Linked DNA regions of Homo sapiens: region 2 is linked to region 1. Evidence: fine-mapped expression QTL. Tissue or cell type: whole blood. Region 1 holds a variant in brackets; the other region holds the start of a gene. All regions are shown on one strand. Distances are from middle to middle.

The links. PIP is the estimated chance that this variant, and not a neighbour inherited with it, causes the effect.
Region 2: it holds the start of PEA15, and the variant in region 1 is fine-mapped to the expression of PEA15 in whole blood (INTERVAL, PIP 0.93).

The regions. Positions count from the first base shown.
Region 1 is chr1:160,344,913-160,350,060 of GRCh38, forward strand. NCSTN (nicastrin) reads left to right here. Exons shown (of 17, transcript NM_015331.3): 3 at 4,087-4,210; 4 at 4,637-4,758. Among named protein-coding and RNA genes, the nearest start is that of NCSTN, 4.1 kb to the left of the region's middle. RefSeq lists an enhancer at 1,906-1,955. The variant G/A (reference allele first, on the strand shown) is at 1,963.
Region 2 is chr1:160,202,526-160,207,673 of GRCh38, forward strand. PEA15 (proliferation and apoptosis adaptor protein 15) reads left to right here and starts at 2,859. Exons shown (of 4, transcript NM_003768.5): 1 at 2,859-2,997. PEA15-AS1 (PEA15 antisense RNA 1) reads right to left here. Exons shown (of 5, transcript NR_123725.1): 3 at 2,813-3,851; 4 at 2,546-2,609. RefSeq lists enhancers at 2,065-2,164, 2,515-2,564 and a silencer at 2,715-2,974.

The sequences.
Region 1 (5,148 bases):
TTTGACACTTATATTGGACTGTATGTAGGCAGTTACAGATAACCGTCTGTCAAGCTAGGCAAGATAATTAATAAGAACTAACATTTAGTAAATGCTGCATACCAAGCTTTTTACATGTGCATCTCATACAACCCCAACCACAACCCCACAAAATAGGTCTTACTGTTATTGTCACTTTATAAATGATGAAACTAAAACTTAAAGAAGTTGAGTAACTTTCCCAAGATCATACTGGTAATAAGTGATGATGCCAGGATCTGGTGGCCCGAGCACTAAGCTGAGAGACCTTTTTTTTTTGACACGGAGTTTCACTCTTGTCCCCCAGGCTGGAGTGCAATGGCACGATCTCGGCTCACGGTGACCTCTGCCTTCTAGGTTCAAGTGATTCTCCTGCCTCAGCCTCTTGAGTAGCTGGGATTACATGCACCTGCCACCATGCCCAGCTAATTTTTGTATTTTTAGTAGAGATGGTGTTTCACCATGTTGGCCAGGCTGGTCTCGAACTCTTGACCTCAAGTGATCCACCCACCTTGGCCTCCCAAAATGCTGGGATTACAGGCGTGAGCCACCGCACCCAGCCGAGCCAGCACTCTTAACCACCCTATTATACTGTTTTTTAAGGAGAAAAAAGTCTCATATTCTATGGTGTCCAGTTATCACTTGCACTCTGAACTTTTTGGAACCAAAATGGGCTAAAGGCAATGAACTATCTGAAGAGAAGGCACTGAAAATGCCAAATAGGCTGGGCGCAGTGGCACATGCCTGTAATCCCAGCACTTCAGGAGGTCAAGGCGGGTGGATCACTTGAGGTCAGGAGTTTGAGACCAATCTGCCAGCATGGTGAAACCCCCCCATCTCTACTAAAAATACAAAAATTAGCCGGCTGGCTGCTATGGCATGCCTGTAGTCCTAGCTTCTCGGGAGGCGGAAGCAGAAGAATCCCTTGAGCCCAGGAGGCGGAGGTTGCAGTGAGCTGAGATTGTGCCACCATACTCCAGTATAGGTGACAGAGTGAGACACTGTCTGAAAAAAAAAAAAAAAAAAAAAAAGAAAATGCTGAATAATTGCAAGAGGAATTAGTGAAGCATTCTATTTATCCTTTTTTAAAACTTTTTTTCCTTAAATTCAACTGACAGGCCGTTTATTTTCACACTTTGTGTGTTCCAAAAGAAGGTTCCATGACACTGTGGCTTTAAAAACTATCAAAATCATAGGGCAGGAAAAGTAGTAATCTAAAGGCTAACCTGCTGTCTTCAGATTTTGTTTCCCATGGACAATAGCTCTGTCAGAATGTAGTTTTGCAGATAAGCAGGAAACTTGGGGTCTGATACTGGCTTCTTCATCATCAAATTGATCACCTCTGAATTTCAGTTTACCCCTGGAATAATGGTTGGAGTACTTGCATAAAGCTGAAAGTCAAATACCTCTTAATAGTTGTTTATTGATGACGCTAGGTAAATAGGGTGGTCTCAAAAGTGCTGTATAATTTCCTGAAGCCTTCTTCCCATTTGATAAGAGAAAACTGGGACACTGAGAAGTGAAGGACTTGTTCGTGGAAGCAGTTACTACTTTTTTAGCCATCTTTCCCTGAGCTATAGTATCTGTTAATTGTCCCATGTCCCTGCTATACAAAGCACTGGGAGTAGGTTGACTGGTTCCAAACAGCCCCAAATAAAGTTTTTGTTGTACTTAGTTTCTTTTTTTTTTTTTTGAGATGCAGTCTCGCCCTCTCGCCCAGGCTGGAGTGCAATGGCACAATCTCAGCTCACTGCAACTTCCTCCTCCCAGGTTAAAGCAATTCTCCTGTCTCAGCTTCTTGAATAGCTGGGATTACAGGCGCGTGCCACCGTGCCCAGCTAATTTTTTGTATCTTTAGTAGAGGCGGGGCTTCACCATGTTGGCCAGGCTGGTCTCGAACCCCTGACCTCGTGATCTGCCCGCCTTGGCCTCCCAAAGTGCTGG[G/A]ATTACAGGCATGAGCCACCATGCCCAGCCCTCTGGACTTAGTTTCTGAACTGGTTTGTAGGTAGAAGAGAGCTAGGTCCAGGGTGGGCTGAGATCAGACTGCTGGTCTTGCTGGAACCTCACTATAAAGTACAGAAGGCCAGGACCCCAACCTCTTGTAACTAGGCTCTAAGAAAACTCCTTTGGGAATAAGTCATTCTACTCTATGTTCTTAAAACAGCTCTGTAGGAAGCAAAGCCTCTAGAGGTAAAGCCACGTGCCAGTACAGAGAAACAAGAGGGGGTAAGCGGGACTGTGGCCACTTCCTCATTAAGATCTTGGTTCCTTTTCAACCTACTTATTTCCAAATCTTACTTCGTCATATCTGTCTTTTCTGAGCAGGCTCCGCCCTTTTTAATTAGTGTAGCTAACATGATAAAACTAAGGAGAAAAAAGTGATACCCAGATTTGATTTCTGATTATAATACTCTGCTTCTCTTAGACGCTTTAAAGTTCTCAAAGGGGGCTTTAAATAGGTTTCTTTTCCCTCCCTCCCTCCTTCTATCCTTTCTTCCTTCTTTCGTCTGTCCCCACAGTATGAGATGAATAGAGGTAGAAAACCTCATTGAAGGCGCAGAGAAAATAAGCAAGTTACTTAAGACTACACCATTACTAGTTGGAACCCAGATTAGAATCCAGGTTTTTTTCAGTCCAGTATCATAGTTTGTCTTCCTGTCCTCGCTGGAGTTGAAGTTTTGGGGTGTGTGTGTGTGTGTGTCAGAGTCTCACTATGTCACCCAGGCTGGAGTGCTGTGGCACAATCTCAGCTCACTGCAGCCTCCGCCTCCCAGGTTCAAGCAATTCTCCTGCCTCAGCCTTCTGAGTAGCTAGCATTACAGGTGTGCACCATCACACTTGGCTAATTTTTGTATTTTTAGTAGAGATGGGGTTTCGCCATGTTGGCCAGGCTGGTCTCAAACTCCTGACCTCAAGTGATCCACCCACCCACTTCGGCCTCCCAAAGTACTGGGATTACAGGCATGAGCCACTGTGCCCGGCCGAAGTTATATATGTTTTAGTTGCCACACTATCTGTTCCTTTTCCCATGTTTTAAATGCTGTGGCAAGGGCCGGGCATGGTGGCTCACTCCTGTAACCCTAGCACTTTGGGAGGCTGAGTGGGCATTTAAAGTGATGCTGATATACAGCCAGGGCTGAGAACTACTGGTCTAAAATAATTGATGAATAACATATCCAATTTTCTGTAGGGAGAAGACTCACAGGGAGACCCTAGGATATCTCCACACAGATCACTGGGGACTTAAGGAGTATTACCTAATGCCTTGAATTATGTAGAATTCAAAGTATTCTGGACTCTGGGTCATCCATCCTCTAATACAGTGCTTCCCAATCTTTATCATGTCATGAGACACATAGAAAATGTTATTTGTATAGCATCCTGGCACATAGAGAAATGGGTGATATTTTCAGGGCATCCTGGGGTAAATGATAAGTAGGCTCCTGGCTGGAGGTGACTTTGGAAACCCTAGGTTTCCTGGAATGAGGAGAACCAATGAGAGCACATCTCTGATCCATTCGAGGCTTATCAATTGGGAAGCTCTGTTTTAGAAACCTCAGAGTTCTTGACTAACCTCATCTAAAACCGGCCAGAAGCAAGTAAAGTCATTCCCAAAAAGGGCAAAAGGAATGACGATCCAGGAAAGCTCCTGAGGCCAAGGGCATGTATGCATGTGTTTTTACAAAGGAAGATTCAAAGCTAAAACCCTGAGCTAGAGATTTAGTGGCATTTCCTAGAGAAAATATAGGTTTGAAAACTTTGGTGTCTATTGTTGTAGAATCTTATGTATATGGCTAAATAAGGTTGAGGGCAGAGGGCAAAAAAATGAAGTTCACAGAACCTTTCTGGCATATAATGAGTCCTCTTGTGCTCTTTTATATTCCATTCCCTCCTGATAACCTTCAGATGGAGCTGGGGCAACAGCTTTTCAGTTCAAATCTAGAGGTGCCTGTATTCACCCAAATATGTTGTGACATCTTTAGGGGATAAAAGATACGCAGAATCAGTGAGGCAAAGTCAGAATTGTTAACTATGGGAGCTTTAATTTGACTCATTCTGTCCTGGCAGCTTCAATTAGTGGAGACACAGGGGTTATCCACGTAGTAGAGAAAGAGGAGGACCTACAGTGGGTATTGACTGATGGCCCCAACCCCCCTTACATGGTTCTGCTGGAGAGCAAGCATTTTACCAGGTAAGAACTAGATGTATCTGCTGGGAAAACATCCATAGAGGGAAAGTTTCAGTGAACAGTCCTCACACTTATTAGTGAAAACTTCCCTTGGCTGCCCTGGTCTGGTCAGGGGAGAGGGCAGGGTGGTCCTCAGAAGGAAAGGTGTACCATCAAAAGAAATGATCTTGAGCTTAGGGCTAAATTTCACCTACCTGTCCCTGAGTAACCCTGGGCATCCCTCCCCTCCCTCCCTGGGGTCCTTACTCACTAAAGCTCTACTTTTTAGAGCAGATCATTGTCCAGACTCAGAATTTAGAGACTGAAAGGGAAGAAATAAGTCAACAGTTTGATTCCCCTAGTTCCCCATTTGTTTCCATCCTGCAGGCAGAATGTCAGGCTGTCTGATACCTTCCTGTGTTCCTTCATGGAATTCCTTTCCTATTCCAGGGATTTAATGGAGAAGCTGAAAGGGAGAACCAGCCGAATTGCTGGTCTTGCAGTGTCCTTGACCAAGCCCAGTCCTGCCTCAGGCTTCTCTCCTAGTGTACAGTGCCCAAATGATGGGTTTGGTAAGTGTCCCAAAGGATCAGGAGAGCCTACTGTCACCTAAGGCTCACTGTTGCTTCGGTCTTACGTCTTTGTGAGGGATGTATATGTGTTTGTGTCTGTGTGTAGTGTCAGTAACTGACTCCCAAACAGGGGGTAGTGTTTATTTGTCTTTGCTGCTCATCCCTTCCCTCTCCTGCTTCCCCTTCCTTTGCCTTACCTGGCATTATCTCTTTTTGTCACGTGTTCACATCCCTAATCTTACAGCCTAAGACTCCCTGATACCATTGTCTTTCTATTTTAGTGTGGATGGTAATAGACTTCATGCCTACTTCTTTGAGTCACCACCTCCTTTTGAACTCTTAGTCCCAACTGAAAGATTCTTCTGCCGTCACCTGGTTCCTAAGTACTTG
Region 2 (5,148 bases), 140 kb before region 1:
GAACAAAGGAAAGAACAGAATGAACTCAGAAGAGAGATCAGAGTGGGCTTGATGACTTCACAAAGGAAGTAAGCCTTTACTAGGCCTTAAATTGAAGAATGGGATTTGGTTGGAGACAAAGGAGCTGAGGAGGAGACATTTCAGTCAGTGGAAAACATCAAGTACTGGCAGGATATGTTTGTCATATTGGGGGCACAGAGACCAGAGAGACAAGAAGAAAAATCAAGTTGTGGCCATGAAGTTGGGTAAGCATAATGGGGCTGGGTTGTAGAGCTGTTTGAATTGAATCCTGCCAGCCGAGGAGGCAGGGCAAAATTTAATCTGGTAGCGATAAGCAGGATGGGGAGGGGAGATGATGGAGATGCCAGAGGTAAGGGGCCCAACCCATAATCAGTGACTGTTATAATAATTGGAGTGATGTTGGGAGAACATGGACCCAAGTGGTGGCCATGGGAATGGAGAGGAGATATTGTATACAATGGGGATCTCCCAGACCTGGGCCTGCTGGAGGTCTTGGCAAGAAGGACCCACAGTCTTTCCAGAATAGGCCCAGGCTGGGGTAAGCAAAAAGGAGTTTAGGGAGTTGGGGATGGGAGGGCCAAATAGCTAAATAAGCCCATAAATAATAAACATATACATATATAGTTTTGAGATGATGCCCATGAACAATAAACATTTTATATATATAATATATACAAATAGCTAAACAAGCCCATAAATAATAAACATTATATATATATTTTTGAGATGATGCCCATAAATAATAAACATTATATATATATACATATACATATATATGTGTGTGTATATATATATATTTTTTTCTTTTTTTTTTTTTTTTTTGAGATGGAGTCTCACTCTGTTGCCAGGTTGGAGTGCAGTGGTGAGATCTCGGTTCACTGCAACCTCCGACTCCCGGGTTCAAGAGATTCTCCTATCTCAGCCTCCCAGGTAACTGGGACTACAGGTGCCCACCACCACACTCAGCTAACTTTTTTGTAGTTTTAGTAGAGATGGGGTTTCACCATGTTGGTCAGGCTAGTCTTGAACTCCTGACCTCAGGTGATCCACCTGCCTCAGCCTCCCAAAGTGCTGGGATTACAGGCGTGAGCCACCACGCCAAGCCAACATTATATTTTTCATGGATCAGGTGTAAAGTTGTTGCTGAGAGACTTAGAGGATTTCTAAGTACGGAAAGATGAGACCTGAGATTAGATATATTTTCACTCTCCACAGACAAGTCCAGGAAGTGTTCCTAGAGAATGTGGCAGGGGTGTAGAAAGCAGAAACTATGTATTCATTCCAACTTGTAGCTATTTAATAAATGTTTAATAAGTAGTATGGGCACTAAGCTAGTCTTACAATAATATTGTGGAGCTTACTGTCTAGCATAGGTCAGTGGAAGGCCCCGGTCTAAATAATAGCTCCTATTTTTTAAGCACCCATCTGTGCCAGTCCCTAGAGACTTACTATTTCTGAATCTCAGAAGAACCCTCAGAAATAGACATTGGCACCCTGATCTGACCGGTGAGGACACTAAGGCTTTCAGGCATAACTTGCCCAAGGAATGGGTGGAACTAGCACGCAGCCCAAGGCCCCTGTGTCTTGTTGCCTCCAGACCTGAGCCTTTCACTTAGAAACTACATGAGTCTCAAAGATGGGTCAACGAAATAGTTTTTGTCCCTACAACACAGAGCAAACATGATATATACAAAGGCAAATGATTAGTGTGTGACAGGGAATGCTGGGGAGAGGAAACAGCAGAGAAATGCTATGAAACCCAGAGCAGCAGGAACTTGGGCCTCTTCTAGGAATGGTGTAGACCCAAGAAAGGAGGGGCTCGTTTGAGGTTTCTGGAGGAGTCTCTGCCAGGTAGGAACTGAGATGAGATGGGTGATCCTGGAAGTGGCACAAACACTGAGGGGAATCCCCCAACCTGGGCCTGCTGGAGTTCCTGGCAGGAAGGACCTACCCAGGGTCAGACTTCTTTCCAGGGCCAAACCCTGCCCAGAGCTGAGGCAAGACCCCTTAGGCTATAGAGATGGGGGTGAAAACAGATGCTTCTCCAATTCTTCCTTTCCTCTTTTCAGTCTGGCTGAGAATCTGGGGGAGGAAAGTCCCTGGGGTAGAGGGGAAGTGAGAGCTGCCACATTGGGCCTGGGCAGAGGGGCAGAGCTAGGAGATGGAGCTAAGTGTGGCTTTGCAAGTTGTCTATATTTGCATGCTGAGCTCACTGCTGCTCTTTTTCTCCCCAGAAAATAAAATTACATCATGGTAGGGGGAAGGCAGGAGTGGGGCATGTTTGGGAAAGGTGAGAGGCACGCAAGAGGGCCTGAAGGCATCATCCTGGAAAGAGAAGATCCAGGGCTCCTCAAGTCCCCATGTGGCCCCAACCCCTCACTCCCAATGTGGATAAGTCTGATCAGTCATTTTCCACTGCGCCCCTGACCCTTAAGGCAAGGCAAGAAGTTTTTACAAATATTAAAGCCAGCAGCTAAGAGAATCCAGCCCCCAAAGGCTTTCCAACCCCCTAAACCAAACCTACTCTGTGCCTCCCAGGGGTCCTAGGCACCGTGGTCATCCAAAGGTCAAAAGGGGAGGAGGGTGCCCTACTGGGTAAGAATTAAATATGAGAATTGTTTCGCAGTTCAGGGGGAAGAGACCGTCTCCGCTCCAGCCCTCCGCCCAATTCTGTCCCCCATCCTAGGAGTCTTCCAGAACCCCAGCCCCTCGGTCCCCCGCCCCCTCCTGCCTCTCCATCCCTCCCCCTCCTCCCGCCATTCCCCGCCCCCCGCCCCTCCCCGGCTCTGACATCACCGGCCAGCCGGGTGGAGTGAGCGGCGCTGGGCTCGGGCTCCGGCTCCGCGGGCGGAAGAGGCGGCGGCGGCGGCAGAAGCGGCGGCGGCGGCGGCGGGAGCCGAGGAGGAGGTTCCGGACGCTGCTTAGGAACCGGGGACTCAGGAGTGCCCGCGCCCTGAGCGCTCAGCTCCAGAGGCGGTGAGAGGGGCGGAGAGGAGACATGTCGCGGGGAAGGGGCAGATTTCGGGGTCTAGGCTTGGAGGGGCAACGATCTGGGACACCGGGGGCCAGACGGGGAGTGTGGGGACCCCGGACGAGTCCACTTTGTGTCAGGCCTCACGGGGTCCGTCCCTCGGTCGGTGCGTCCCGAGCGCCGAGCGTGTGCTGGAGGCGGCGTGGCTCCGGCCAGCCCGTTCCACGCTGAACGGCAGTTTGGGAGTCGGACCGGGGCCTGTGGATTAGGATGCAGCCTGCTTCCCGCCCAGCCGGCTCGGCCAGGCCAGCGCCCGCCCCTCCCTCCCCGCTCAGGCTTCGGACTCGCCTCCGCTGGCGGTCTCCCGGCCCAGCCCTGTCTCGGTTCCGCGGGCGGCTGGTACCATGTGCCCTCACCCCCAGCTCACTGCACCTGGGGAAGAGGTGGGCTTGGCGGAAAGCTTGTCCAGAGGGAAGGAGGAGCTGGGGGTGTAGAGAAGTGATGTATATCTAACGTAAAAACCCTTATTAATTTCATATAATCCGTGTCAAAACTGACAGGGAAACACGCACACCTATAAGGCACGCCAGCACACACAGTGACACACACCCATGTGACTTATACACATAGTCTAGCACACTCCAAATCACAAACGTCCCTGGACTACGCATCCGGCCGCCCACCACACCCCCACTCTGTGGGGTGGGGCATCCCATGAGGAGTCTTCTGAACTGCGGGCTCCAAGTCATCAGTCCGACAGGACAGCTGAGTGGACAGAAAGGGCCACTGTCCCCAAATCCATCCTGATTTTCTGGCAGCTTTTCCCAGCCCCATGGTTTCAGATTGTTCCTCTTTAAAACTGTGGGGAAAGATGGGAGAAAATCTTGGTCTCATTCCTCTAACACAAGGAGACAGGATTTTGCGGACTAATGAGGGTAGGGGCTTCTGGTGGCTTCTCTTCCTGGGTCCAGTTAGGGCTTAGCGTGCTGGGAGTGGCTAGTTTCTGGGTAAGAGTGGCCAAGGGATGGAGGAGGAGGGGGTGGAAGAAACGGAGAGGAAAAAGAATGGGTATGAGTCAGCCAAGAATGGAACCCAAGTCAGAGAGAGAATGAGAGGAATGTGTGTGAGAAGCAGACAGACATCTCCAGAGAGGTCTAGAGATAGTCAGGGAACCAGGGAGAGGGAGGAAGTGAGAGAAAGAGATGGTCAGAGAAGTGCAAACAGTGTTTGAGAGTGCACTAAACAAATTAGGGAGGATGAAGGTTGGGGGAGACCACTGGGAGTTAGGGAAAGTGGTACGTGTGTCTGGGCCCCAGGCTGTCAGAGCGATTAGCTTTAATTGCTCTTCCCTTTGTGGTTAAATACTCCATTGGGGAAATTGCCAGTGATGCCCTAGGCTGCAGGCTTCCCTGGTTGCCTACTTCCTCAATTCCGTGCCCATCATGTGTGGATGTATTATCATGCATGAAGAGGGTCACAGAATCACAGAGCGCCTCACTCTCTCACACAGATCCTCACGCACAATGTCATGATGGATATCTTCACCAGCTGGTAGGCAGCCAACCACTGAATCTCCAAGCCACTCCGACCAAACTTACTCTGTCTTTTGTAGCAGGGATGCTCACCCCTTCCTAATTGCAGCTCCGAATATTCAGATGGGGACAGTGAAGCACAGATCTCAGGAGTCCTAAGTATTCATGGCTACCACTAAGTTGGATAGGTGAGTAGGAAATGCTAGAAGGGGTGAAAGCCTATAGAAAGGAGGAAAAGAGAGACTGAAAGATGAAGTAGAAAGGAAATGCATGACAAAGAGTGAGAGAGATGGAGAGAGACAGAAATAGAAGCAGGGAGTGCCACACCAGAAGAGTGGAAACAGAGATGGGCTGGGGAGAGTCCTAGGCCCCATTCCCCTCCTCGCCATCAGCCGGCCCTCCTCTGCTCTGCCTGATCCAGTGCCAGCTATCTCCTGATGCCCCATCTTGGGTCTGGCTCTTTCTAGACCAAGGGCTGAAGGCTAATCCTTGTCCCCATGCCCAAAGGTAATCCATTTTGCTTCTTGGACTGAAGTGAACATTTTAGGGCCCAGATGTCCTGCCTCTCGTCACTTCCAGGCTGACCCTGGAGCCTCAGAACCCTCAATTTCCTTGTTACAGGAG